2 separate regions of the Homo sapiens genome follow, and region 1 is linked to region 2. Evidence: fine-mapped expression QTL. A gene starts in region 2. The other region holds a variant in brackets. All regions are shown on one strand. Distances are between the middles of the regions.

What was found. PIP is the estimated chance that this variant, and not a neighbour inherited with it, causes the effect.
Region 1: its variant is fine-mapped to the expression of TAF13 in subcutaneous fat (TwinsUK, PIP 0.95).

What each region holds. Positions count from the first base shown.
Region 1 is chr1:109,049,634-109,065,132 of GRCh38, forward strand. TAF13 (TATA-box binding protein associated factor 13) reads right to left here. Exons shown (of 4, transcript NM_005645.4): 4 at 14,507-15,060. The coding sequence ends at 14,890. Among named protein-coding and RNA genes, the nearest start is that of WDR47, 15 kb to the left of the region's middle. The variant G/A (reference allele first, on the strand shown) is at 6,197.
Region 2 is chr1:109,072,810-109,088,172 of GRCh38, forward strand. TAF13 (TATA-box binding protein associated factor 13) reads right to left here and starts at 3,194. Exons shown (of 4, transcript NM_005645.4): 1 at 3,112-3,194; 2 at 2,178-2,256. The coding sequence starts at 3,138. It overlaps TMEM167B-DT (TMEM167B divergent transcript), which reads right to left and starts at 11,941. Exons shown (of 2, transcript XR_947688.3): 1 at 10,406-11,941; 2 at 5,483-5,837. RefSeq lists enhancers at 1,451-2,437, 3,042-3,101, 3,202-3,451.

The sequences.
Region 1 (15,499 bases), 23 kb before region 2:
CAAAAAAAAAAGAAATTTTGGGCCAGACACAGTGGCTCATGCCCGTAATCCCAGCACTTTGGGAGGCCAAGGTGGGAGGATCCCTTGAGCCCAGGAGTTCGAGACCAGCCTGGGCAACATAGTGGGACCCCATCTCAACTAAAAATAAAAATAAAAAAAATAGCCTGCCATGGTAACACGTTATCCCAACTACTGGAGAGACTGAGGCAGGAGGATCGCTTGAGTCTGGAAGGTCAAGGATTGCAGTGACCCATGATTGTGTCACTGCACTCCCTCTCAAAGTGCTGGGATTATAGGCTTAAGCCACCATGCTCAGCCAGAAATTTTAGCTTGAATAAAATGGACCCTATTCTGACAAGGTAGAGAAGATAAGAGGTCTTATTAGTGTTTATATTCTCCATAACCTATAGCATAGTGCTATTTGCATATGCATTTTCAATGAATAGGACTCAACATTGTTAGAAGCAAATATACCACCATTATATTTCTGGAAAAAAGAAGGTGGAAGGAGAGAAAGAAAGAGGCACCGAAACACAAGACATCTGGTACATCTTATCACTTGCATACTTATAAACGCATTGACTGTATATTTGTTTCTTAATGTAACATCAAAGTTTACACTACAACCTTAATAGCTGGTAGCCTAAGGTATCACCTTTCCTTCTATACTCAGCCACACTGGTTAAGATTAGATCTTCCTGTCTTTCACTCTAGTTGCTGCAATAGCAGTCAATTGTTCAAAGAGGACAAGGCTTGCTTAGATGAAGGACTGTCCTCAGATTCCAAGGTACTGCCTCAATCATTCACCAAATATTAACTGAATGCCAGTTCTGGGTCAGGAACTAGGTTAGGCATCATTTGGAAATGCAGGTTCTTACATGACAGAATGATTCATGGTGCCTTGTGACTTAAACGCCTATAGGCTAAGGTGGACCTCTTTTAATGTGATTCTTAAATGTTATCTCTAAAAAGGAGAATAGGAGTTTTTGGTTTTCCCCAAATAGGAGAAAGGAGTCTGAGTACAAGCCCAAGCTAGGAAACTTTGCCTCAAGGAATTCAGGGGAAGTTTGTGGAGCTAAGAGAACGTGTTTTAGAAGCTCCACTCCCATTACTAGAACACGCACATACATACACACATCAAAAAGCTTTGTGCTTCAGAGCCAGTAGCACCTAACCAAGATATGGAATTAACCTAAGTGAGGCTTTAGGAGAACAAAGCACCACCACTGCTGCTTCTCCTTTAAACAGATTCAAGGGCCAGGCACCGCGGCTCACGCCTGTAATCCCAACACTTTGGGAAGCTGAGAGGGGCGGATCACCTGAGGTCAGGAGTTTGAGACCAGCCTGGCCAATATGGAGAAACCCTGTCTCTACTGAAAAATGCAAAAATTAGCAGGGCGTGGTGGCGCACGTTTGAACCCAAGAGGCAGAGGTTGGAGTGAGCTGAGATCGCGCCACTGCACTCCAATCTGGGCAACAGAGGTAGAATTACCTGGGTCTTCCAGGGCTCCTATCTAGACCTCTAAACAAAAACTTGGTTGTACATAAAAGAGATATGCTGTTATTTATATTAAGTAAATATCTGATATATTCTTGAAAATAAAAATAAAATAAATTATTTTGGAAAACATCCACTTTAATCAAGTCAGTGAAATATGTAAATTTTTTTTTTTTTTTTGAGACAGAGTCTCGCTCTGTCGCCCCAGCTGGAGTGCAGTGGCACAATCTCAGCTCACTGCAAGCTCTGCCTCCCGGGTTCACGCCATTCTCCTGCCTCAGCCACCCGAGTAGCTGGGACTACAGGCGCCCACCACCACACCCAGCTAATTTTTTGTGTTTTTTTTTTTTAGTAGAGACAGGGTTTCACCGTGTTAGCCAGGATGGTCTTGATTTCCTGACCTCGTGATCCACCTGCCTCGGCCTCCCAAAGTGCTGGGATTACATGCGTGAGCCACCGTGCCTGGCCATATGTCAAAATTTTTAAAAGGGGAAACTAAATGTTAGGAAATGTTAGTAATACCTAAAGCACATTAAGCATCATAATTTCAGATAAGTGTTTTAGGATAAGGTTAGAAAGTTTCCGGTAATAAACTTGTGACCATTTAGTAGAACTTCCTATAAAGATGGAAGAAATGTCATAATCACCAAAACAAGTCTTGATTGGTGTCTTATAAGTTCATATGCCTCCAAAATACTTACAAAAACCCTATTTCAGAAAAAATAAGTATAGTATTAGCATTTCTTTTAGAGCTTGGTCAGTAACTATACAGGCTCTTTCCAATAAAATTTCAGTTATTTATCTAAAATGGCCATGCAAATACAAATTGAAAAATGATTTTTGCTTTAGCAATTGTTCTGATCCTAAAAGAATGTACCCAATGATATCAAGGCAGTCTACCAGGTTCTCTGTGTAAGCAGAAATAATCATAATATTAGGTATAACCATAATAAAGTATTATACATGGAAGTCTCAGTGCTACAAATAACATGAGATTTTGTACAAAAGTTCAAATAGGAACTTCTATCAATCTACTGGTAACACATAAGAAATTTGCTCCTTACTTTATTTCATTGTATTTAGTTATTTGAGACTGGACCTTGCTTTGTTGCCCAGGCTGGAGTGCAGTGGTGTAATCTCAGCTCACTGCAACCTCCACCTCCGAGGCTCAAGCAATCCTCCCACCTCAGCCTCCTCAGTAGCTGGGTCTACAGGCGCCCGTCACCACACACAGCTAATTTTTGTAGAGACAGGGTTTTGCCATGTTGCCCAGGCTGGTCTCAAACTCCTTGGCTCAAGTGATCTGCCTGCCTAGGTCTCCCAAAGTGTTGGGATTATAGGCATGAGCCACCTCACCCAGCCCTATTTCTAACTTTAGAATTCCACTTATCAGAATCACACCTGTAATCCCAGCACTTTGAAAGGCTGAGGTGGGCAATCACTTGAGGTCAGGAGTTCCAGACCAGCCTGGCCAACACTGTGAAATCTTGTCTCTACAAAAATTAGTTGGGCTCCCTCCCCCTCCCACTCTTCCTTTCCCTCTTTGCACGGTCTCCCCTCTGATGCCGAGCAGAGGCTGGACTGTACTGCCGCCATCTCGGCTCACTGCAGCCTCCCTGCCTGATTGTCCTGCCTCAGCCTGAAGAGTGCCTGGGATTGCAAGCGCGCGCAGCCACGCCTGACTGGTTTTTGCATTTTTTGGTGGAGACGGGGTTTCGCCGTGTTGGCCGGGCTGGTCTCCAGCTCCTGACATGGAGTGATCTGCCCGCCTCGGCCTCCCGAGGTGCCGGGATTGCAGACGGAGTCTCGCTCACTCAGTGCTCAATGTTGCCCAGGCTGGAGTGCAGTGGCGTGATCTGGGCTGGCTACAACCTCCACCTCCCAGCCGCCTGCCTTGGTCTCCCAAAGTGCCGAGATTGCAGCCTCTGCCCCGCCGCCACCCCGTCTGGGAAGTGAGGAGCGTCTGACTGGCCGCCCATCCTCTGGGATGTGAGGAGCCCCTCTGCCCGGCCGCCCAGTCTGGGAAGTGAGGAGCGCCTCTTCCCGGCCGCCATCCCGTCTAGGAAGTGAGGAGCGTCTCTGCCCGGCCGCCCATCATCTGAGATGTGGGGAGCGCCTCTGCCCCGCCGCCCCATCTGGGATGTGAGGAGCGCCTCTGCCCGGCCGCGACCCCGTCTGGGAACTGAGGAGCCTCTCGGCCCGACCGCCACCCCGTCCGGGAGGTGAGGAGCGTCTCTGCCCGGCCGCCCCGTCTGAGAAGTGAGGAGCCCCTCCGCCCGGCAGTCACCCCGTCTGGGAAGTGAGGAGCCCCTTCGCCCAGCAGCCGCCCCATCTGGGAAGTGAGGAGCGTCTCCGCCCGGCAGCTGCCCCGTCCAGGAGGTGGGGGGCAGCCCCCACCCGGCCAGCCGCCCCGTCCAGGAGGGAGGTCGTGGGCAACCCCCGCCCGGCCAGCCGCCCCGTCCGGGAGGGTGGTGGGGGACGCCTCTGCCCGGCTGCCCCGTCTGGGAAGTGAGGAGCCCCTCTGCCCGGCCGCCACCCCGTCTGGGAGGTGTACCCAACAGCTCATTGAGAACGGGCCATGATGACGATGGCGGTTTTGTCGAATAGAAAAGGGGGAAATGTGGGGAAAAGAAAGAGAGAGCAGATTGTTACTGTGTCTGTGTAGAAAGAAGTAGACATGGGAGACTCCATTTTGTTCTGTACTAAGAAAAATTCTTCTGCTTTGGGATCCTGTTAATCTATAACCTTACCCCCAACCCCGTGCTCTCTGAAACATGTGCTGTGTCCCCTCAGGGTTAAATGGATTAAGGGCGGTGCAAGATGTGCTTTGTTAAACAGATGCTTGAAGGCAGCATGCTCCTTAAGAGTCATCACCACTCCCTAATCTCAAGTACCCAGGGACACAAAACACTGAGGAAGGCCGCAGGGTCCTCTGCCTAGGAAAACCAGAGACCCTTGTTCACATGTTTATCTGCTGACCTTCCCTCCACTATTGTCCTATGACCCTGCCAAATCCCCCTCTCTGAGAAACACCCAAGAATGATCAATAAATACTAAAAAAAAAAAAATTAGTTGGGCATGATGTCGTGCCCCTGTAGTCCCAGCTACAGGAGGCTGAGGCAGGAGGATCATTTGAACCTGGGAGGTGGAGGTTGCAGCAAGCCGAGGTTGCACCACTGCACTCCAGCCTGGGTGACAGAGCAAGACTCTGTCTTGGAAAAAAAAAAAATGCCAGGCGTGGTGGTTCACGCCCAAAGTAATTCCAACACTTTGGGAGGCCGAGGCGGGTGGATCATGAGGTCAGGAATTCGAGACCAGCCTGGCCAACATAGTGAAATTCTGTCTCTACTAAAAATACAAAAATTAAGCCAGGCGCGGTAGCTCATGCCTGTAATTCCAGTACTTTGGGAGGCCGAAGCAGGCAGATCACGAGGTCAGGAGTTTGAGACCAGCCTGGCCAACATGGTGAAACCCCATCTCTACTAAAAATACAGAAATTAGCTGGGTAGGAGAATCGCTGGAAACCGGAAGGTGGAGGTTGCAGTGAGCCAAGATTGCATCACTGTACTCCAACCTGGGAAACAAGAGCAAAACTCCGTCTCAAAAATAAAATACAAATAAAATACAAAAATAAAAATACAAAAATTAGCCAGGTGTGGTGGCACAAGCCTGTAGTCCCAGCTACTCGGGAGGCTGAGGCAGGAGAATCGCTTGAACCCAGGAGGCAGAGCTTGCAGTGAGCCGAGACCATGCCATTGCACTCCAGCCTGGGTGACAGAGTGAGACTCCGTCTCAAAAAAAAAAAAAAAAAGAATTCCACTTACTCCACTTATCTGGATACCACATAACAAAATGATACCTATGCTGTCTCAGATACAATAGGTGTTTAATAAATACTCAATATATGAAAACGTTTTCCTTGAACCAATCCCATAATTTTTGTGTTTCTTTTTGTTTTTGTTTTTGTTTTTTTTTTTTTTTTTTTTTTTTTTTTTTTTTTTTTTTTTGAGACGGAGTCTCGCTGTCGCCCAGGCTGGAGTGCAGTGGCGCAATCTCGGCTCACTGCAGGCTCCGCCCCCTGGGGTTCACGCCATTCTCCTGCCTCAGCCTCCCGAGTAGCTGGGACTACAGGCGCCCGCCACCTCGCCCGGCTAATTTTTTGTATTTTTAGTAGAGACGGGGTTTCACCGTGTTAGCCAGGATGGTCTCGATCTCCTGACCTCGTGATCCGCCCGCCTCGGCCTCCCAAAGTGCTGGGATTACAGGCGTGAGCCACCGCGCCCGGCCTTGTTTTTGTTTTTTTTTGAGACGGAGTTTCACTCTTGTTACCCAGGCTAGAGTGCAATGGCGCGATCTCAGCTCACCACAACCTCCGCCTCCTGGGTTCAAGCAATTCTTCTGCCTCAGCCTCCCGAGTACCTGGGATTACAGGTGTGTGCCACCATGCCTGGCTAATTTTGTATTTTTAGTAGAGACGGGGTTTCTGCATATTGGACAGGCTAGTCTCAAACTCCTGACCTCAGGTGATCTGCCCGCCTCGGCCTCCCAAAGTGCTGGGATTACAGGTGTGAGCTACTGCGCCTGGCCTTTTTCTTTTTTTTTAAGAGACAGGGTTTCAGTATATTGCCCAGGCTGATCTTGAATTCCTGGCCTCAAATGAATCTCCCACCTTGGCTTCCAGAGGTGCTAGATTTACAG[G/A]ACTGGGCAGATTTTTTCATTTTTTTTATTTTTGAGATAGGGTCTCCTTTTGTTGCCCAGGCTGGAGTGCAGTGGTGCAATCATAGCTGACTGTAACCTCGAACTCCTGGACTCAAGTGATCCTCCCATCTAGGACCACTCCTCCCAAGTACCTAGGACTCCAAGGGCGTGCCACTGCACCTCGCTAATTTTATTTCTTATTTTTGTAGAGATAGGGCCCAGACTGCCCTATCGCATAATTTAATGGTGTGAATAACTCATGTAGTCATTTACAAGGGCCCAGGAAAAGCAGCAGCCTTCAACAACACATTTAACACTTTGTTCCCTGATCATCCACACTTCCAGTATCTATTTGTGGCAAGAAGGAAAACATGGGGACTGTAAGAAAATCAGACCTAGAGAAATGGGTGTGTTCTGTGATGTAGGCAGGGCTTTAAAAAGTTTTTGGTTTTAGGCTGGGTGCGGTGCCTCAAACTTGTAATCCCAGCACTTTGGGAGGATGAGGCGGGTGGATGGCTTAAGTCCAAGAGTTCAAGATGAGCCTGGGCAACATGGCAGGACCTCATCTCTTTAAGAAAAAAAAAAATTAGGCAGGGCACAATGGCTCACGCCTGTAATCCCAGCACTTTGGGAGGCCAGCGCGGGCGGATCACGAGGTCAGGGGTTCGAGACCAGCCTAACCAACATGGTGAAAACCCGTCTCTACTAAAAATACAAAAATTAGCCGGGTGTGGTGGCGGGCACCTGTAATTCCAGCTACTCAGGAGGCCGAGGCAGGAGAATCGCTTGAATCTGGGAGGCAGAAGTTGTAGTGAGCCAAGATCGCCCCACTGCACTCCAGCCTGGGCAGCAGAGTGAGACTCCATCTCAAAAATAAATAAATAAATAAATAAAAATAAAAATAATTAAATGGGCGTGTGTGTAAAAAAATAAAACAATGTAATAATAATAGAAATAAAGTGCACAATAAATGTAATGCGCTTGAATCATCACGAAACCATCCCCCCATCACCCTCACCCCAGTCCGTAGAAAAACTGTCTTCCACAAAACTGGTCCCTGGTACAAAAAAGGTTGGGGACCACTGCTCTAGACGATGCATTCATGTAACTCCTCTCACTGTCATTCACCCTCATAATTTTGTTTTCATTTCCTACATGTGTATGTCTAGAGAAGGAAGAATGTGCTGATCATATAGGTGCAAGTTTTACTTACATCTATAAACTGGTATCCGTTTTCATACATTGGTCTTATAAGTTTGGATTCTATGAGCGCACCCACAGAGATGAATGTGCTATTTGCTGATGAAATCAGTTTCTAAGCCTGCAATGCTGCAAATCAAACTCTGGCTCTGGACTATAGTATACTCATTCAAGTAATGCAACCTCCCAAAGTCTCTTGGAAAATGGCCAGATGACTCTCCAGGCAGCACCTTTCTCCACTGATGACAGGCCAAGTGAGCTCTTTCCTCCACTTTAAAATTTCTACACTTACACTATTACAGTTTTTACTCAAGAACACCATTTCCGGCCGGGCATGGTGGCTCACGCCTGTAATCCCAGCACTTTGGGAGGCTGAGGCAGGTGGATCACCTGAGGTCAGGAGTTTGAGACCAGCCTGGCCAACATGGCGAAACCCCTGTCTCTACTAAAAAAGTACAAAAATTAGTTGGGTATGGTGGCACCTGCCTGTGATCCCTGCTACTCAGGAGGCTGAGGCAGGAGAATTGTTTGAACCTGGGAGGTAGAGGTTGTGGTGAGCCAAGATCACGCCACTGCACTCCAGCCTGGGCAACAGAGTGAGACTCGGTCTCAAAAAAAAAGAGAGAGTGCTTCAATAAAATTGGAGGCTGGGCACCGTGGCTCATGCCTATAATCCCAGAACTTTGGGAATCTGAGGCAGAAGAATGGCTTGAGGACAGGAGTTCAAGGCCAGCCTGGGCAACATAGTGAGACTCCATCTCTACAAAATTAAGAAAAAAATTAGCCAGGTGCAGTGTAGTCTTAACTACTTGGGAGGCTGAGGCATGAGGATGACGAACCCAAGAGTTCAAGGCTGCAGTGAGCTATGATCCTGCCACTGCACTCCCGCCTGAGTGACAGAGCAAGACCCTGTCTCTAACAACAACAACAAAAAGCCACAAAGCTTGGAGGGAATTACTATAGATTAAAAGAAATTTAGACATACCAAACAAATGCAATGGGTGACACCTTGTTTAGATCCTACTTCAAAGACAATGTGGGAAGCAGAATAATAACCCCTCACAGATGTCTACTTCCTTTAGCTAGGCATAGTGGTGTGTTGCCTATAGCCCTAGCTACTCTGTAGGCTGAGGCAGGAGGATTGCTTGACAGGAGTTGGAGGCTGCAGTGAGCTATGATCACTCCAGCCTGGGTCACAAAGCGAGACCCCATCTCAAAAAAAAAAAAAAAAAAAGTCCACATCCTAATTCCCAGGACCTGAGAATATGTTACTTGACATGGTAAAAAGAGATTTTGCTTCCATGATTAACTTAAGAACCTTGAAATGGGGAGAGTATTCTGGGTTATCCAGGTGGGTCCAATATCACAGAGAATCCTTACCAGCTGGAGTCACAGGCCAGGGAGATGCAACATTGCTAGCTAGCTTTGAAGAAGGGTAACATGAGCCAAGAAATGTAGCCTTTACAAGTTGTAAAAGGCAAGCAAACAGGTGTCTCCTAGAACATCCAGAAAGGAACACAACTGTGTCAGCACCTTGATTTTAGCACAGTAAGGCTAGGGTCAAACTTTTTTTTTTTTTTTTTGAGGTGGAGTCTCACTCTGTTGCCCAGGCTGGAGTGCAGTGGCGCAATCTCGGCTCACTGCAAGCTCTGCCTCCTGGGTTCGCACCATTCTCCTGCCTCAGCCTCCCGAGTAGCTGGGACTACATGTGCCCACCACCATGCCAGGCTAATTTTTTTGTATTTTTTAGTACAGACGGGGTTTCACTGTGTTAGCCAGGATGGTCTCGATCTCCTGACCTCGTGATCCGAGCTAGGGTCAAACTTCTTACCTAGAGAACTAGTTAAATAATAAATGTGTGTTAAGTCACTAAATGAGCTGTAATTTGTTACAGTAACAATTGAGATTAATACACACACTCAAAAAAGATATGTTGAGACAAATCAGCAAGATTTAAACCAGGATTTGGCATCAGGCACTGTGGCTCACGCCTGCAATCATTCCAGTACTTTGGCAGGACTAAGGCAGGAGGATTGCTTTAACCCAGGAGTTCAAGACCAGCCTGGGCAACATAGTGAGACCTGTCTCTCTACAAAAAAATTTTAAAAATTACCCAGTTGTGGTGCTGCACACCTGTAGTCCTAGCCACTTGGGAGGTTAAGGTGGGAGGACTGCTTGAACCCAGGAGGCAAAGGCTGTAGTAAGCCATGATCATGCCACTGCACTCTAGCCTGGGCAACAGAGCAAGACCCTATTTCAAAAAAATAAAAAAATTAACAGGAATTGGGTATTAGATGGAATATTGAGGAATTAGTGTTAATTTTTGATAGGATATGGTAATAATATGTGGGCTTTTTAAACTTTGTTAGAAATATGTGCTGAAGCTCAGGCACATTGGCTCATACCTGTAATCCCAACACTTTGGGAGGCTGAGGCAGGTGGATCACTTGAGGTCAGGAATTCAAGACGAGCCTAGCCAACATGGTGAAACCCCATCTCTACTAAAAATACAAAAATTCGCTGGGCATGGTAGCAGATGCCTGTAATCCCAGCTACTCGGGAGGCTGAGGCAGGAAAATCGCATGAACCCAGGAGGTGGAGGTTGCAGTGAGCCAAGATCGTGCCACTGCACTCCAGCCTGGGTGACAGAGTGAGACTATGTCACAAAAAAAAAAAAAAAAAAAGATATGTACTGAAGCATTTATAGATGAAATGATACAAGGATGTCTGGGATTTGCTTTTGTTTTTATTTTTTATTTTTTTGAGATGGAGTCTCACTCTTGTTGCCCAGGCTGGAGTGCAATGGCACGATCTTGGCTCACTGCAACCTCTACCACCCGAGTTCAAGGGATTCTTTTGCCTGACTCTCGAATAGTTGGGATTACAGGCTCCCGCGACTATGCCCATCTAATTTTTGTATTTTTATTAGAGACAGGGTTTCACTGTGTTGGCCAGGCTGGTCTTGAACTCCTGACCTCAGGTGATCCATTCGCCTTGGCCTCCCAAAGTTTTGGGAATATAGGCATGAGCCATCGCACCCAGCCAGATTTGCTTTAAAATAATACTGCCCCCCTACCTTAAAAAAGGTAAGGGTTCTAAAACCAAGGTCCAAAATTAAAAATAAGAAAATTATTTAAAGGTAGGGGGATAGGACAAATTGGCAAAAAGTTGGTTACTTGTTGAAGCTGGGGGCTAGTTACACTATTATTGTGTATACTTGAGATTTTCCATAGGAAGTTTAAAAAAAAGTGAATTAATTTAGGAGAGAGCACCTATATATACTCCAGATCAGCACTGTCCAAAAGAATTTTCTGTGATGATGGCAGTGTTCCATATCAGCACTGTCCAATGCTGTACCCACTTACCATAAGGGTTTTGAGCACTTGAAATATAGCAAACGCAACTAAGGAAGTGAATTTTTCATTTTATTATCATTTTTTAAATATTTTATTTTTTGAGACAGAGTCTCACTCTGTTGCCCAGTCTGGAGTGCAGTGGTACGATCTCGGATCACTGCAGCCTCTGCCTCCTGGGTTCAAGCAATTCTCCTGCCTCAGCCACCCGAGTAGCTGGGATTACAGGCACGTACCACCACACCCGGCTAATTTTTGTATTTTTGGTAGAGATGGTGTTTCATCATGTTGGCCAGGCTGGTCTTGAACTTCTGACCTCAAGTGATCTGCCTGTCTTGGCCTCCTAAAAAGCTGGGATTACAGGCGTGAGCTACCGCACCCAGCTGAATTTTTCATTTTAAAATGTAAACAGCCATATGTGGCTAGTGGCTACCATTTACACAGTGCAGCTCTAAATACTGGAAGACAGCCATGCCACCTTACTACCAGAATTTGAAGTTAATAAGTAAGCTCAGGCATCAAGTCAGCCCGCCGAGCCTCTTTCCCCTTTTTGCTAATAGCAGTATCTAGTATCCCAATCCCATTCCAAGCTCTTTTTTACCAGAAGTGGGGCAAGAGATCCGGGCTATAGTACAACTTCTTCCTGGCCATAGTGACTGGTCCAGGAAGAAAATAAGCAGAGCTCGGATCCTCATAATCCTTGCTTGGAATTTTCTCTATTACGAAGTAAAGCAGCTTCTTCAATTTGGAGTTGTAAGGAGGGAACCCCAGAACTGCTGGCCATCATGTTCATTTGCCACTCTTAGAATAAAACCAAAATTAGGATAAAAGACAGAGAGACAGTCTTGCTTCTCAAGTACTTAGATCCAGTCAACCCTAAATTCAGCTCCATCCCCTTTCCCATGTGTCGGTTAGGTAAGCCAATAAATTCCTTGTTTATGCTATTAATAGTATTGAGTTAAGTTATATCACTTGCAACCTAAAATAGTCAACGCAAAGCCCCACTCAGTCTGGGCAACACAGTGAAATAGGTTCTCTAGCCAGGCATGCCTGTAGTCCCAGCTACTCGGGAGGCTGAGGTGGGAGGATTATTTGAGCACAGGAGGTCGAGGCAGTGAGCAGTGATTGTGCCACTGCACTCCAGCCTGGGTGACAGAGTGAGCAGTTTACTGAAGCCTTGACCTCTCAGGCTCAAGTGATTCTCCCACCTCACCTCCTGAGTAGCTAGGACCACAAGCGGAAACCACTGTGCCTGGCTCTTTTTTTTTTTTTACAGAGATGGGGCTTGCCTAGGCTGGTCTCCAACTCCTGGGCTCAAGCAATCCTCTCGCCTCAGCCTCCCAAGCAGCTGGGACTACAGGCATGCCACCACGCCCGGCTAATTTTTTTGTATTTTTAGTAGAGACAGGGTTTCACCATGTTGGCCAGGCTGGTCTGGAACTCCTGACCTCAAGTGATCCACCTGCCTTGGCCTCCCAAAGTGCTGGGATTACAAGTGTGAGGCACTGTGCCTGGCCTTGATTTTTAGTTGAGATGGGGTCTCTCTATGTTGCCCAGACTGGTCTCCAACTCCTGGGCTCAAGAGATCCTCCTGCCTAGGCCTCCCAAAGTGCTGGGATTATAGGCATGGGCCATGGTGCCCAGTCCTGCTTTTTTTTTTTTTTTTTTTTTTTGATACGGGGTCTCGCTCTGTCCCCCAGGCTGAAGTGCAGTGGCGTGATCTTGGCTCACTGCAAGCTCCGCCTCCCGGGTTCACGCCATTCTCCTGCCTCAGCCTCCCGAGTAGCTGGGACTACAGGCGCCCGCCACCACACCCGGCTAAGTTTTTTTGTATTTTTTAGTAGAGATGGGGTTTCACCGTGTTAGCCAGGATGGTCTCGATCTCCTGACCTCATGATCCACCTGCCTCGGCCTCCCAAAGTGCTGGGATTACAGGCTTGAGCCACCGCGCCCGGCCCAGTCCTGCTTTTTTAAATGAAAAGATTCACCCAGATACTCACTGAAATAAAAAAAATTTTCAGCTAGACTAAGCAGCAAGAATTATCATATTACCAGTAATGGGCATAATATTCTGGGAGGAAAAAAAGTCACAAATCAGTCAGATTCAAGGATCAACCTGTTTAATTGTTCATATTTTATTCCTGTATCAGTAGATTAAGAAAGTAAAATTTTCCCAAGCACTGATTTATAGATCATGTTTATAAGCAGCATACAAAAAGTTAAGTTTCATAAACAATAACATTCAGTGATCTACTTAAATCCAATTGTAATCCTTACTTTAAACTAAGGGCAATAATAATTTAATACATAGAGTAAATACACACAAAACCTGTGTATTCAGAACTACAAACATGGTTTCCATAGCCACGTATGGTTTTAGTCAAGGACACATTTCCACAATGAACAAGTACTTACAAATATGTTAATAAAACACTAACCCAAATGCTTACCCTGCCATCAGCTTTTTAAACAATGCCATTCCTGCTACTGAAAGCATTTATTTTTAGAAGCTTGAATCTGCTCTGGGAAAACGGGTTCTCCTAAAACTTAACAGGATGTTATAAATCCGAAAAGATTTTAAATCAAAAAGCCTTCCAACACAGCATTATTCATGTGAAACTTGCTTTCTTTTTTTTTTTTTTGAGACGGAGTCTCGCTCTGTCGCCCAGGCTGGAGTGCAGTGGTGCGATCTCGGCTCACTGCAAGCTCCGCCTCCCAGGTTTACGCCATTCTCCTGCCTCAGCCTCCCAAGTAGCTGGGACTACAGGCGCCTGCCACCGCGCCCGGCTAATTTTTTGTATTTTTAGTAGAGACGGGGTTTCACCGTGTTAGCCAGGATGGTTTCGATCTCCTGACCTCGTGATCCGCCCGCCTTGGCCTCCCAAAGTGCTGGGATTACAGGCGTGAGCCACCGCGCCCGGCCCGTGAAACTTGCTTTCTTAAAAAATAATAATAACTTGTTATCTGAAGAAAATTAAAAGATTATCTTTTAAGAGAGATAAACATTCTTACAAAAAACTATATTTTCCTCTATCATCTCTTTAAAAGAAATGCAAACCAGTTCATTATCTTTGTTTTTTTGAGAGTCACACTCTATTGCCCAGGCTGGAGTGCAGTGGCGCCATCTCGGCTCACTGCAATCTCTGCCTCCTGGGTTCAAGCAATTCTTCTGCCTCAGCCTCCCAAGTAGCTGGGATTACAGGCACATGCCTCCATGCCTGGCTAATTTTTTAATTTTTAGTAGAGGTGAGGTTTTGCCATGTTGGCCAGGCTGGTCTGGAACTCCTGGCCTCAAGTGATCTGCCCGCCTCAGCCTCCCAAAGTGCTGGGATTACAGGTGTGAGCCACCACGCCCGGCCTAGTTCATTATCTTTAATAATGAACTAGACAATAAACTAATTGTTGTCTAAAAACTTCTGAATACATGAAGTACAAGTCTGAGCTGTCAAGTCAAAAATGCCATTTAGATTTCACATATTAAACAGCTATAGTAGGCCAGGCGCGGTGGCTCACACCTGTAATCCCAGCACTTTGGGAGGCCGAGGCAGGTGGATCACGAGGTCAAGAGATCAAAACCATCCTGGCTACCATGGTGAAACCCCGTCACTATTAAAAATACAAAAAGTTAGCCAGGCGTGGTGGCAGGCGCCTGTACTTCCCAGCTACTCGAGAGGCTGAGGAAGGAGAATCACTTGAACCCGGGAGGTGGAGCCTGCAGTGAGCCAAGATCACGCCACTGCACTCCAGCCTGCCAACATAGTGAGACTCCATCTCAAAAAAAAAAAAAAAAAAAAAAAAAGCTACAGTATAGCTTACAAGGGCATAAACATACCTAACACATTAAATACTACTTTATCCTTTAAATAGTCAAAAGTCAGAACAACGGCATGGTTTGCAAGGTACTTTGACTTATGTGTGGTCATTAAAACCCAGTAAGTAATTCAAGTATGGTAATATAAAGGCAGGCAATTACATGCACCAATATCACCCTAAAATCAAAGGCATAAAAATAAAGGCTGAAAACTTTGTGTTTCTCCATCTTTCATTTACATGGCTAGATATCAGAATCTTACTTTAGAAAATATACAATTATTATATATGGTTTCCCCAGATGGTAATTTTCGGAAACTACAAAAAGTGTCAAGATCCATAATTTGCTTCATCAAATGCTTTTCTAGCTCGTTTCAATTCTTCATTCATAGTAAGCAAGTCTTTAACCCTGGCAAACTTCCTTGGGTCCTTTCGAATCAAGAAGACGATATCTTCAACTTGTACTCGACCTTGTCTTCCAATTGACATTGCCTTGTGAGTCTATTACAAAGAAACATATTACATTTAACTTTTTTAAATCTAATATTTTACTGTTTTAATTTGCATTTATTAATTGCAAGTGAGGTAGAAGATTTTCTCTTATTATTATTATTATGGCTATTCATTTGTGAATTATCTTTCTACTCATGTCCTTTGTCTATTTTCTACTGGATTATTAGCAATGTTCTCCTTTATGCTTCACAGGCACTTTAAAAAAAATCTTAAGGACATGAAAGCTGTCAACTTTATTGTTCCTTTTTTGTTTTTTGATATATGTAGATTTTGTCTTCATTTATATAAAATAATTTTATAATTTTGTGTACCCACCCATTTCATTTATGCTTTGTGTCCTCCTCTATCTTAATACCCAATAAATATTGGTGGGTTTTCTAAAAATCAAATAACTCTATCTCATCCTGTCATTATATACTCACCTGTG
Region 2 (15,363 bases):
TTGCTGTGTCACCCAGGCTAGAGTGCAGTGGCGCAATCTTGGCTCACTGAAACTTCTGCCACCTGGGTTCAAGCGAGCACGTCTGGTTAATTTTTGTATTTTTAGTAGAGACGGGGTTTCATCATGTTGGCCAGGCTGGTCTCGAACTCCTGACCTCCAGTGATCCACCCGCCTCAGTCTCCCAAAGTGCTGGGATTACAGACGTGAGCCACTGCACCCAGCTGTTCACCACCTTCTTACTTTGTTCAGGGCCTTAGTCCAAAGCCCAAGCCCCAACTCACTTGCTACTCTCCCTCAACACCTGTTGCAGGATCCATTATTACCTGTGGCTTACAGTCAAAGAAGCCTCTCTACTGCTGTAAAGGCAAGAGGAAAACTAATGGAGGTATGTTCTTCTGCCCTAAATTAAAACACTAATTACATTTGCTCACTTAAAAAGCAATTTATAGGCCGGGTGCAGTGGCTCACGCCTGTAATCCCAGCACTTTGGGAGGCCGAGGCAGGCGGATCACAAGGTCAGGAGATCGAGATCATCCTGGCTAACACAGTGAAACCCCGTCTCTACAAAAAATACAAAAAAAGCTCTCCCTCCCCCTCCCCCTCGTCTGCGTCTCCCGCTTTCCACCGTCTCCCTCTGTTGCCGAGGCTGGACTGTACTGCAGCGATCTGGGATCGTTGCAGCCTCCCTGCCTGACTACAGGCGTGCGCCGCCACGCCTGACTGGTTTTTGTATTTTTTGGTGGAGACGGGGTTTCGCCGTGTTGGCCGGGCTGGTCTCCGCTCCTGACCTCGAGTGATCTGCCCGCCTCGGCCTCCCGAGGTGCCGGGATTCCAGACGGAGTCTCGCTCACTCAGTGCTCAATGCTGCCCAGGCTGGAGTGCAGTGGCGTGATCTCGGCTCGCTACAACCTCCACCTCCCAGCTGCCTGCCTTGGCCTCCCAAAGTGCTGAGATTGCAGCCTCTGCCCGGCTGCCACCCCGTCTAGGAATTGAGGAGCGTCTCTGCCTGGCTGCCCATCCCCTGGGATGTGGGGAAGCACCTCTGCCCGGCCGCCCCGTCTGGGATGTGAGGAGCGCCTCTGCTCGGCCGCTACTCCGTCTGGGAGGTGAGGAGCACCGCTGCCCGGCCGCCACCCCGTCTGGGAGGTGAGGAGCGCCTCTGCCCGGCCACGACCCCGTCTGGGAACTGAGGAGCGCCTCCGCCAGGCCGCCCGCATCTGGGAAGTAAGGAGCCCCTCTGCCCTGCCGCCACCCTGTCTGGGAGGTGTACCCAACAGTTCATTGAGAACGGGCCATGATGACGATGGCGGTTTTGTCGAATAGAAAACGGGGAAATGTGGGGAAAAGAAAGAGAGATCAGATTGTTACTGTGTCTGTGTAGAAAGAAGTAGACATAGGAGACTCCATTTTGTTCTGTACTAAGAAAAATTCTTCTGCCTTGGGATGCTATTAATCTATAACCTTACCCCCAACCCCGTGCTCTCTGAAACATGTGCTGTGTCCCCTCAGGGTTAAATGGATTAAGGGCGGTGCAAGATGTGCTTTGTTAAACAGATGCTTGAAGGCAGCATGCTCGTTAAGAGTCATCACCACTCCCTAATCTCAAGTACCCAGGGACACAAAACACTGAGGAAGGCCGCAGGGTCCTCTGCCTAGGAAAACCAGAGACCCTTGTTCACATGTTTATCTGCTGACCTTCTCTCCACTATTGTCCTATGACCCCGCCAAATACCCCTCTCTGAGAAACACCCAAGAATGATCAATAAATACTAAAAAAATTAAAAAAATAAAATAAAGCAAAATAAAAACACACAAAAAAAATTAGGTGGGCGTGGTGGCCGGCGCCAGTAGTCCCAGCTACTCAGGAGGCTGAGGCAGGAGAATGGCATGAACCCGGGAGGCGGAGCTTGCAGTGAGCAGAGATTGCGCCACTGCACTCCAGCCTGGGCGACAGAGCGAGACTCCGTCTCAAAAAAAAAAAAAAAGCAATTTATACACACACACACAATTGGGGTTAGGATTGGTACTATCTGATTCAAAAGTTAAACAGAATTTGATAGGCTAGTCTGAGAATATTATCCCTACAGGGAAACATTCAAAGCAATAAAGCTACTTTGAAAGGACATGTCCAAAAGTTTTCATCATCTATAACAAAATCATTGTCAAATACTACTTACATTCTTTAGAAAAAAGTCTCTTTCTTTTACCCTGTCCACCTTCTGCACCTCCTCCAATTTCTTCATTTTCTTCCTCAAACTAGAAGTTAAAATGTATATATAGAAATGTCAAATAATTGCCTTGCATTTGATATTTTAATAATGACATTTTTTTTTCCTTTTCAACAGATAGGCCAGAAAGCCAAAGGAAGCAGCAAAAAAAAAAACCACGAAACCTTAGCATTGAAGGAGCCTATGTATCTAGTCCAACTTCCAACTCATGCAAAAATGGCTTCTACAATGTTCCTAACTAATAATCCTACTGCTTCTACTTGTAAGAGTTCCAATGACCATAAGTTTTATTTTTAAACAACTAAGGTGGCCTATTACTACTGTTACTGTTAAACAGTTGATACTGAATCAAAGTCTACCTTTGTAGACTTTGTAGTAAGCAAAACTAATATTTCCTATGCATTTGCTTATACAGTGCTAAAAACGTTCCTTAAGTAAGCCCGTAACCCTATTTTATAAAAAGAAAACTGATGTTCAAAGTTAAATAACTTGCTCAGAGAGAATGGAAATTTTGAAATCCAGGCTGTCTGACTTTCAATGCATTCTTTTCCCATTACTTCACAGTAAGTACAGTTTTGTTAACAATTGAACTGTTGGCTCATAGTGCGCGCTAATAGATGTTAGTTTTGATCTCTGATGATTCTGTACGTGTTTCAGTGTCTGGCAAATACAGACCAAAATCAAGGGGAAAGGGGTCACAAAACCTACTCTTCCTTCATGTCCTTCCCCACTTTCTAAAATGATCAATCCTTAGGGCGTGAAGTCCCCGAACTCTGTCCGCTGAATTCACTAAGGCAAGCAGACCCGATCCTGAACTCTGCCTCCGCTACTGAGCCCGAAGGAGTGAAGAAAAGACAGGTTTTGGACAGAGACGGTCACTCACCGTGGGGTCTTCTTCCTCATCTGCCATCCCACTAGCACGCCAACTCACAGCGTCCTGCCGGCTGGCTCCCAGCTGGTTACACTACTTCCGCCGCCTCACTTCCGGTGACGCGCGGGGCCGTAGCTGGGCCTAGCCCTCTGCGGCCTGCGGGAGGACGGTGGTGCTTTCCGGCCTAGCGGCGGAAATGCGACAGTCTCTAAGGGAGGAGGCCGGAGCGCCTCCCTGTAATCCCGAAGGAATTGAAAACTAACAAAGAAAAGGAAATCACGGGCTAGGTCGCGAGTATCTCGTTGTCACCCTGAATTTGCTACTGCGTATTGAATCACAGCTTCTTGTTTGGGGACTGCGAAGCTATGGATCATAGGAGGGCAAGCCAGCAGTCCTTTATCAGACAAATATGCTTTTAAATCATTTTAAAGATTTGTAGTTCCACTGTTTCTAAGCACTGTGTTAATTATTGGGGATACTGTGCTTCATCACAAATTTCCAAGAGATGGTGTCCCGAGACTAAGCATTTAAAATTTTGTGAAGGTTTTTTGATTTTTTTTTTTTTTTTTTTTGAGACGAAGTCTCACTCTGTCGCCCAGGCTGAAGTGTGCAGTGGCGCGATCCCGGCCCACTGCAACCTCTGCCTCCCGGGCTCAAGTGATTCTCCTTCCTCAGCCTCCCGAGTAGCTGGGATTACAGGCGTGCGCCACCATGCCCGGCCTTATTTTTGTTTTTTTGAGACACAACCTCACTGTCCCCCGGGATGGAGTGAAGTGGCGCAATCAGGGTTCACTGCAGCCTAGACCTGCTGGGCTCAAGCCATCCTCCCACCTCAGCCTCCAAGTAGCTGGGATTACAGGCGCACACCACCAATGCCCAGCTAATTTTTGTATTTTTAGTAGAGATGGGGTTTCCCCACATTGCCCAGGCTGGTCTGGAACTCATGGCCTCAAGCGATCTGCCCCGCTCTGCCTCCCAAAGTGCTGGGATTACAAGTGTGAGCCACCGTGTCCACCGGGGAAGGCTTTTGGTCAGAACAATGGCTGGCAAAACCACAGGCATCGGAAGGCCAGAGCTAGGGATATAATATAAATGTCCCTACAGTGTAACAGATGATGCTACATAAAGAAAATCCCGTAATACACACGATTTCTGAATGTCCTGCTGAACATTCGGTGAGTGAAAACTAATTATCTGAGAGTTGAACCTATCTTTGTTAATAAACACAAAGCGGCCGGGCGCAGTGGCTCACGCCTGTAATCCCAGCACTTTGGGAGGCCGAGGTGGGCGGATCACAAAGTCAGGAGATCAAGACCATCCTGGCCAACATGATGAAACCCCGTCTCTATTAAAAGTACAAAAATTAGCTGGGCGTAGTGGCGCACGCCTGTAATCCCAGCTACTCGGGAGGCTGAGGCAGGAGAATCGCTTGAACCCGGGAGGCAGAGGTTGCAGTGAGCCGGGATTGTGCCACTGCACTCCAGCCTGGTGACAGAGCGGGACTCCACCTCAAAAAATAAAAATTAAAAAAATAAACACAAAGCATTTTCCCACACTTTTAATGTACGTTGAAGTTTCTAGGAATGTTATTACCCCAAAATTGAATAGTAATTGTATTTTGTTTGGTCTGGAATTCATTAAGAGCTGTGTACCATTTCAAGAAATAACGTCACCAAAAGCAACATCACTTGTAATAATTTGAATAGTGAATAATGAAAAAATAACTTTGATTTGAGGAATGTGAGTTAAATTATTAGGCCCAAAGAGGCATTAAAATGAGAGGCAATCACATCCTGCTTGCCCCCTTTTGAGCTATGTATTTATGTCTTAAAACCGCTTGCTATTGCCACAAGTATTAGTTATAAATTAGCCTAATTATGCCCCATCAGACACCATATCGCACACCCTATAGCTTGATAATGTTTAGCCAATTACTAATCAATGTTATTTTTGTGAACCAATGAGAACTCCTTAAAGACAACTTTGTATCAGCCCACTCCCTGTCCTCATTCTTTTCCTTTAAAAATCCACTTGTACCTGCTGCTAATCTTAGAGTGTATATTCTAGGCAACTTTATGCTGCTGAGTTGTAATCCTCAAGTTTGGCCCAAATAAACTCTCTATTTATATTAATTTTGCCTCAGCTTCTTCCTTTTAGGTCGACAATACTCACCCAAATCAGTCTGCATTCAAAGCAATTCTACATATAGGTAGAAGCATCTGAAATCTTCATTATCCCCCCCTAGTGCCATCATACCTGAGTATTTATATATTGAAACAAATGTTACTATTTTTACTTTACTTTTATATTACCTTTATGCCTGACCTCCTGGCCACTGGATCACTGGATCCTGTTAGGATATTATGTTATTTTCAAAATTATGTGAGTAGGTAGATATATTAGTTATTTATTGCTGTAACAAATTACCCCAAAACTTAGTGGCTTAAAACAAATATCACACAGTTTCTGTGGGTCAGCAATGTGGGTGCAATTTAACTGGGTGCCTGTGGCTCAAGGTCCCTCCTGTTGCAGTCGGGATGTTGGCTGGGGCTGCAGTCATACCTCAAGTGTTGATGGAGGAGAATTTGCCAGAGTCACTCACAGGTTGCTGGAGGTTTCACTTCCTCCAGGTTGTTGGACTAAGGGCCTCAGTTCTTTAATGGATGTTGCCCAGAGGTCTCCCTCAGTTCCTTGCCATGTAATCCACTCCATAGGGCAGCTCACAATGTGCCAGTTGCCTTCCTCCAGAGGACACAAGTGGGAGAACCCAAAAGACAGAAATCACAGGTTTTTTGTTACCTAATTTTGGAAGTGACATCCTATAATTTCTGCCCTATTCTATTCACTAGAAGTAAGTAAAAAAGTGCAGCTAGGGCTGGGCGCAGTGGCTCACACCTGTAATCCCAGCACTTTGGGAGGCCGAGGTGGGCGGATCAGGAGGTCAGGAGTTTGAGACCAGCCTGGCCAACATGGTGAAACCCTGTCTCTACTAAAAATACAAAAATTAGCCGGGTGTGGTGATGCACACCTGTAATCCTAGCTACTCAGGAGGCTGAGACAGGAGAATTGCTTGAACCCGGGAGGCGGAGGTTGCAGTGAGCTGAGATGGTGCCACTGCACTCCAGCCTGGCCGACAAAGCAAGACTCCATCTCAGAAAAAAAAAAAAAAAGTGCAGCCCAAGTTCAAGGAGAGGGGATTACATAAGGGCAAGAATATTGCTGGGGAGATCACTGGGGGCTTTCTGAGAGGTCACCTACCACAGTAAATTATATTATTTTTGAATTTCACTACACAATAATGGAGACACTGTATTTGTTATTAATATTTAAAGGAGATTGTTGAGCCTGATAGGTTTGAGAACTGCTTTTAGGTAGTGATCCAGTGTCCAGGAGGTCAGGCATAAAACATTCATAGTGTCTGTTATCAGTGGAGTAGATAGGTAAAATATGCTGGATGCACAGCACGGAGTACAATGCAGCAATCAGAAGCAATAGATTTAGCAACATGGACAGAACTTGAAAACAGTGCTAAGTTAAAAAAGAAACAATAAAATCTATAATATAATACCATTTATAGAAATTAAAAATACTACTTATTTTAAAGGAAAATATAAAAAAGCGTAAACATTAAACACACTAGAAAGTTGCAGTGTAGGAGAAATGGGAATAAGGATAAAAGGAATAAATTGATAAATAAAAAGTGAAGGACTTTGGAAGGGCCAATTGTAATACTATGCCATGAGCTGCGGCATGTGAATAATTCAATCCTGTGAACCTGAGATCCAAAACACAAAGTGGGGGAAAAAAAATTGCAGTGTCAGTCCAGGCGTGGTGGCTCACGCCTATAATCCCTGCACTTTGGGAGGCCGAGGCGGGCGGATCACGAGGTCAGGAGATTGAGACCATCCTGGCTAACACAGTGAAACCCTGTCTCTACTAAAAAAAATACAAAAAATTAGCCGGGCGTGGTGTCGGGCGCCTGTAGTTCCACCTACTTGGGAGGCTGAGGCAGGAGAATGGCATGAACCCGGGAGGCGGAGCTTGCAGTGAGCCGAGATCGCGCCGCTGTACTCCAGCCTGGGCAACAGAGCAAGCCTCCGTCTCAAAAAAAAAAAAAATTGCAGTGTGATAAGCAGAGCAGAAGGAAAACACAGAGTAAAAAGTCATGGTGTGCTTCTACAAGATGTTCTCTGTGGGTTGCCAGAGCCAAGTTTTTTGGGTGGGGATGCAGGAAACGAGGCTGGAATTTGCGTGTGAAAGGCCTTAAATGTTCTCTTCAGAGACTGAACTTCAAACTACAGAGTTCTTGGGAAGTCTTTAAACAGATGTGTCACATGACTTTACAGTTTTTAAAAAGATCACTTTTGCGGGGAAACTAGGATGAGAGATGATTATAATCTGAATTAAGGCAAAGAGGAAGAAGGAACTGATTTAACACAAACTTTACGAGACAATTTACAGGACTTTGTGACAATGAATGTGAAAGCTATTGACAGAAGAATGGAATGCTATTAATATAAATAGGAAAGAAAAAGGGGAAAGAAGTTGGAAGTGGAAGGAAATGAGTTTAGTCTGTGTTTGAGAGTCTGGAGATGTACTAAAACTGATGGAAATCCAGGCCAGGAATTACAGGCCCGGAAATCCACAGAAAAATTAGTACTAGAAGCCGGGTGTGGTGGCTCACGCATGTAATCCTAGCACTTTGGGAGGCCAAGGTGGGTGGACTCCCTGAGCTCAGGAGTTCGAGACCAGCCTGGGCAACATGGTGAAACCCTGTCTCTACTAAAACACACACACACAAAAAGAAAGAAAGAAAGAAAGAAAAATTAGTACTAGAGAAAATGACATGGGAGATACCATCACAAAGTGATAGTCTAGAGATTGCACGGAAACAAAGGCTGAGAGAATAGAGGCAAAGGGCACAGCCTTAGAAACAGTACATCAAGGAGACAGAGTGACAGAAGGAATAGTCAAAGAGGTAGGAAAAGATAAAAGTAGGATAAGGAGGAGGAGAGGGAGGAGAAAAACTGAAAACCCAAAAAGAAAAAGTTTCAAAAAGAAGCAGGTTTGGGCTGATCACTTGAGGTCAGGAGTTTCAGACCAGGCTGGCCAACATGATGAAAACCTGTCTCTACTAAAAATACAAAAAATAAAAATAAAATAAAAAAATTAGCCAGATGTGGTGGCGAGCACCTGTAGTCCCAGTTGCTCGGGAGGCTAAGGAAGAAGAACAGCTAGAACCGAGGAGGCGGAGGTTGCAGTGAGCCAAGATCATGCCACTGCACTCCAGCCTGGGTAACAGAGCAAGACTCTGTCTCAAAACAAAACAAAACAAAACCAACAAAGAAAAGCAGGTGGCATGGAGTGCTCAGTGCCAGAGATTACAAGATTGAAGATTTCTCTTTTTTTTTTTTTTTTTTTTGAGACAGAGTCTCGCTGTGTCGCCCAGGCTGGAGTGCAGTGGCTTGATCTCGGCTCACTGCAAGCTCCGCCTCCCGGGTTCATGCCATTCTCCTGCCTCAGGCTCCCGAATGGCTGGGACTACAGGCGCCTGCCACCGCGCCCGGCTAATTTTTTTTTGTATTTTTAGTAGAGATGGTGTTTCACCGTGTTAGCCAGGATGGTCTCGATCTCCTGACCTCGTGATCCGCCCACCTCGGCCTCCCAAAGTGCTGGGATTACAGGCTTGAGCCACCGCGCCCGGCCACAAGATTGAAGATTTAAGAAAAGGCCTTGGATTTGACAATTAGGAGGTATGGGAATGATCTGGAGAACAAAGTTTGAGGGTGTTGGTGAAGATGGAAGCCAGATTATAACAGGTTAAAGAACGAGTACATAGTTGGATACTGAAGGTAGAAAAGCAAAGAGGAAAGTAGCCTTAAGAGGGCAGTAAAGGCCGGGAGCGGTGGCTCACTCCTGTAATCCCAGCACTTTGGGAGGCCGAGGTGGGCGGATCAAGCGGTCAAGAGATTGAGACCATCCTGGCTAACATGGTGAAACCCCGTCTCTACTAAAAATACAAAAATTAGCTGGGCGTGGTGGCACGCACCTGTAGTCCCAGCTACTTGGGAAGCTGAGGCAGGAGAATCGCTTGAACCCGGGAGGCAGAGGTTGCAGTGAGCCGAGATCATGCCACCGCACTCCAGCCTGGCAACAAGAGCGAGATTCCGTCTCAAAAAAAAAAAGAAAGAAAAAAGAGGGCATTAGGACCTAGGAATGTGGACTTTGAATAAATGATTACTGAATGAATGAAGCTGTGAACTTATCCCAGCCATTTAGCTAACTGCTCAGAAAATCCTGTTTTTCATTACAGCAAAAAAATGGAATGAGCTTTTAATGAAAAAGGTAATGACCAAAGAGATTTGTTCACAAAAGAATGGAATCAGCAGAGAGGTAATTGATAGAAGGAAGAAATGGAGCTCTATGAGAGTAATTTGGAAGGAATGGCAGGGGTGGGATTATCAGAAATGAGGAAAGCAGGAGCTGGATGGTGGGTCTGAGAGGTGTTAGTGATGGGATATTGGTAGGCAGGTAGCACCACTCAGACTCCAAATCAAGGCAGAAGCTTTGCAGTCCCACCCCTACCTCCACTTTCACCCCTCCATCCCAGGGTGTAGACGTCTACAGTGCTTCTCCCTAATTTGGGCTTAGTGAGGTTATGTCACTTTTAAAATGGCTTTCAGAATTTCTGCAATAATCTTAATGGAGTCTTAACCACACTTCCTATGGTCCATGGTTAAATATGCAGACTCTGAGATCAGATAGGTTGAGTCTGAAATCCTAGGTGTACTATTTATCAGCTATGTTACCTTGAGACAACTTACTTGACCTGCTGGTACACCCATTTCCTCATCTATGACAGGGGGATAATAATAGTTACTAACCATATAAGGTTATTATGAGGTTATTAGATGTGTTAATAACCATAAAGTGTTTTGGGTAGTACCTGGCATGTAGTGAATATTCCATAAGTATCATTGTTTTTATTTTTTTTTATTTTTTGAGATGGAGTTTCACTCTTGTTGCCCAGGCTGGAGTGCAATGGTGCAATCTTGGTTAACGGCAACCTCTGCCTCCCGGGTTCAAGTGATTCTCCTGCCTCAGCCTCCCGAGTAGCTGGGATTACAGGCATGGGCCACCACGCCTGGCTAATTTTGTATTTTAGTAGAGATGGGGTTTCTCCATGTTGGTCAGACTGGTCTTGAACTCCCGACCTCAGGTGATCCGCCCGCCTTGGCCTCCCAAAGTGCTGGGAGTACAGGTATGGGCCACCGTGCCCGGCAGTTGTTTTTATTTAAGGGCCTACCTTTCACCATTATCTTCTGCTGTTCTCCTTCATGAGCTCTGCATTCCAGTTCCACAAGGCCACATTCAACTATTCATGCAATAAATATTCATGAAGCACTTGCAAAATGTTTAGCACTAGCTATGGGATTGTGGATAAAATGACAAAACAAATGAACATTACAATATAGCAGGGGGACATAAGTTAAACAGATATAGTATGCTTTGGAAACATGATCAGGGAAGTAGACTGAAGGTCCGAGAAGTCTACCTTGAGCAAGTGAGGTCTGAGTTGGGACTTGAGGGATGAATGTGAGTTAGCCATTGAAGGAGGAAGGGAGGCTTTACTGTGCCCCAATCTTACCTTACACTTTCCCTCTCCAGGGCTTTGATGGCTCAATTCCCTCCCCACTAGAATGCTCTTTATTTCTGCTTATTGAAATGCTATAAGCTTTTCAGGCCCAGCTAAAATGTCTGCTCCTCAATAAAGCCTTCCCTGAACGCTCCAGCTGAAGGCAGTTTCCCATTTCTACGCACCCCCCCGCCACCCTGGCACTTAGTTTTCATTTTCCTTGGACACTTCTCACTTTCTGCTGTATTTTTTGGTTATTTATAAACACAGCTTATCTTTTTCTACTAAATCTTAAACTTTTTAAGAACAGAGTCTATTTCTCATTCATCTTTGAGTTCCCAAAGGCTAGCACATTCCTTAGATTTAGAAGTCCTGGAACAAATGTTTGTAGCATAAATTAATGCCTATTTGACATCCCTTTTCAAATATGTTGTAATTCAAATGAAGCTATTGTTGCAAGCTGTGCCTTTGAGGCTCAACTTACTCTTTGGTTAAACCAGAATGCCACAGTCATGGTCCCCATGACTGATTAGTGTTCACCACAATAACTGCAACAACCCTAACAAACAGGCCACTGTTCTTGACTGACAGGCGTTTGGCAACAACTACCAATTCTCCAGTGAACACTGAAATGAATTGAGGAAGAACTGTCTGAATTGAGAGTCCCTAGGCCAGTAGGCTCTATTTATTCTTTGCAGTTGGGCTGCAAGAGCTGGTCACCCAGGCTTTGGCCTGATGTGAGACATGACTGCACTGGGTGGCAGTGAGGCTATGAGACTTTCCAGGGTGACAGAAACATTAATGATTGTAACAAAATAATCAAAGATCAGTATCAGTGGAAAGCACTGTAATTTGAGGCAGTGTGATAACAAGGGAAAGGGAGCTTTGAACTTAGACCTGGGTATGGATCCTAACAGGCTATGTTATCTCACCCACGTCCCTTCTTTAAGTCTCAAGATTTAATTAAAAAAAAAATCTGTAAAACAGTTGTGAAAATCAAAGATACTGTCTTTACACAATGCTCATGTTCTATTAAAATGTGTTTATTCATCTATCTTACCCAACATATTTTCTTCTCTGAGGGCAGGGACTTATTTATGCCCCATTTCTGCAAAATCAAGCAAAGTGCTTAGCACACAGTAGTAGACACTGACAAGTACTTTTTTTTTTTTTTTGAGACAGGGTCTCGCTCTGTTATCCAGGCTGGAGTGCAGCAGTACAATCATGACTCACTGCAACTTCCACTTCCAGGGCTGAGGTGATTCTGCTACCTCAGCCTCCCGTGTAGCTGGGACCACAGGCATGCATCACCATGCCTGGGTAATTTTTTTATTTTTTGTAGAGACAGACTTTCACTATATTGTGCAGGCCAGTCTTGAACTCTTGAGCTCAAGCGATCCGCCCACCTCAGTGCCCAAAGTGCTGGGGCTACAGGCGTGAGCCACCAGGCCAACCACAGATACTTTTAAAACAAATTGTAGCAGGAGGAGCCTCAGACAAAACTCCTCAGACACCGAGTTAAAGAAGGAAGGGGTTTGTTCGGCTGGGAGCATCGGCAAGCCTCCTGTCTCAAGAGCCGAGCTCTTCAGGTGCTCAACTTGTGCTTTTAAGGGCTCACAACTCTAAGGGGATCCACATGAGAGGGTCATGATCGATTGAGCAAGCTAGGGGGTACATGACAGGGGCTGCAAGCACCAGTGGTCAGAGCGAAACAGAACAGAACTGGAGGTTTCACAATGTCTTTCCATACAATATATGGAATCTATAGATAACATCAGTTGCTAAGTCACGGGTCGAATTTTAACTACCAGGCTTAGGTCAGGCAGGCCTAGGCCTGGTTTCAGGTGTGGTTCCTAGGCACTGGGCTACCTGCCTTTAGTTTCTCTTCTCTTTCCTTTTCTGAGTATAGAACAATATGAGAGGGTCTCTCTCTTCCCTCAAAATGAACAACAATAATAGCTATCATTTATGGAATACTTACTCATGTCAGATATTGTTGTAAATAGTAATTCACTTAATCCTCCAACAACCTTAGAAAGGAACTAACTTAATTTCACAGAAAACTGAACTTTTTTTTTTTTTGAGACGGGGTCTCACTCTGTCACCAGGCTGGAGTGCAGTGGCGCGACCTCAACTCACTGCAACCTCCTCCTCCCGTGTTCAAGCGATTCCCCTGCCTCAGCCTCCCGAGTAGCTGGGACTACAGGTGCGTGCCACCACGCCCAGTTAATTTTTGTATTTTTAGTAGAGACGGGGTTTCACCATGTTGGCCAGGATGATCTCAATCTCTTGACGTGATCTGCCTGCCTCGGCCTCCCAAAGTGCTGGGATTACAGGCATGAGCCACCGCACCTGGTCAACTTTTTGATTTTAGAATATAAAAGTCTTGATACAACTAATTTTGAAATAGCCTGGTGAGACTCACTCTATTCAATTAAAAAAATGTAAAATATCTTTTACAATATGAAAAAGAAAAAATATGGTGGAGGGAGAAAGAAGAAATAAATTTAAGAGTGGGAGAAAAAAAGTAGGAAGAATAGAGACAGACGTGGAAAATGAAGAAAAAGTAAATTTTGAGTGGAGTTAAAAGAAAACTGTTTAATCATAAGATACTGTGTGCATTATCACTGCCCTTTAGAAATAGTAATTTGAGGCCGGGCACGGTGGCTCATGCCTGTAATCCCAGCACTTTGGAGCCCGAGGCAGGTGGATCATGAGGTCAGGAGATCAAGACCATCCTGGTCAACACGGTGAAACCCCGTCTCTACTAAAAATACAAAAAATTAGCCGGGCGTGGTGGCGGGCGCCTGTAGTCCCAGCTACTTCGGAGGCTGAGGCAGGAGAATGGCGGGAACCTGGGAGGCGGAGCTTGCAGTGGGCCGAGATGGCGCCACTGTACTCCAGCCTGGGCGACAGAGCGAGACTCTGTCTCAAAGCTAAAATAAAATAAAATAAAAATTGGAATTTGCCACTGGGTGTGGTGGCTCACGCCTGTAATCCCAGCACTTTGGAAGGCCGAGGCGGGCGGATCACGAGGTCAGGAGTTCAAGACCAGCCTGGCCAACGTAGTGAAACCCCATCTCTACTAAAAATACAAAACTTAGCCGGACACGATGGCGCATGCCTGTAGTTCCAGCTACTCCGGAGGAGAGGCAGAAGAATTGCTTGAACCCAGGAAGCAGAGGTTGCAGTGAGCAGTGATTGCACCACTGCACTCCAGCTTGGGCAACAGAGTGAGACTTTGTCTCAAAAAAAAAAAATTGTAATTTGCCAATTCATCACTCCTCCTGGTTTTTCAGCTTTGATTTCATCCTTAATTTTTTTTTTCTGTTTATGAGACACAGTCTTGCTCTGTCTCCCAGGCTGGAGTGCAGTGGCGTGATCTCAGCTTAATGCAACCTCTGCCTCCCCGGTTCAAGTGATTATCCTGCCTCAGCATCCCGAGTAGCTGGGATTACAGACAGACACCACCACACCCAGCTAATTGTTGTATTTTTAGTAAAGACAGGGTTTCACGATGTTGCCAGGCTGGTCTCCAACTCCTGACCCCAAGTGATCCACCTGTCTCGGTCTCCCAAAGTGCTGGGATTACAGGTGTGAGCCACCATGCCCAGCCTTTACATTTTATTCTTTTTTTTTTTTTTTTTGAGAGGGAGTCTCACTCTGTTGTCCAGGCTGGAGTACAGTGGCACAATCTCGGCTCACTGCAACCTTCGCCTCCCAGTCTGAAGCGATTCTCCCTCCTGCCTTAGCCACCTGAGTAGCTGGGATTGGAGGCTCACGCCCCCATGCCCGGCTAATTTTTGTGTTTTTAGTTTTGTGTTTTTAGACAAGGTTTCACCATGTTGGCCAGGCTGGTCTTGAACTCCTGACCTCAGGTGATCTGCCCACCTTGGCCTCCCAAAGTGCTGGGATTACAGGCGTGAGTCATTGCGCCCGGGCTTAACTTTTTTTTTTTTTTTTTTTTTTTTTTTTTTTTGTGGTGGAGTCTCACTCTGTTGCCCAGGCTGGAGTGCAATGGCACAATCTCGGCTCACTGCAATATCCGTCTCCCAGGTTCAAGTGATTCTTTCGCCTCAGCTTCCTGAGTAGCTGGGATTACAGGCACCTGCCACCACTCCCGGCTAATTTTTTTGAATTTTTAGTAGACACGGGGTTTCACCATGCTGGCCAGGCTGGTCTCGAACTCCCGACCTCAGGTGATCCTCCCGCCTCGGCCTCCCAAAGTGTTGAGATTACAGGCGTGAGCCCCTGCGCCCAGCTGATTAACTTTTATTCTAACCTCTGAGAATGACAGAAGAGGAAAGACTTGTCTTTCAGAGTATGACAAAAACTGAAGAGGTTTTCATCTAGTTAAAAAAAAATGGGGAGAAAAAATTATCTCTAAAAAGTGAGTGGCATGAGCAAAAATGAGAAAGCAAAGACTGTAACTGAAGAACATAGTCTTTATAGACAAAGCTTAAAGCCCATATAGGGAACAGTGGAAAATACTATTGGAAGGCCTTGAGTAGCAGGCTAAGGACTTAGGCATTATTCAGTAGGTAGTGGTTGCTGTCAAAGGAAACACCAGTGTGGTATGGAGGAAAATTTTCTAGTCCTGATTTCAGAAGGCTGGAATTATTGTGCCA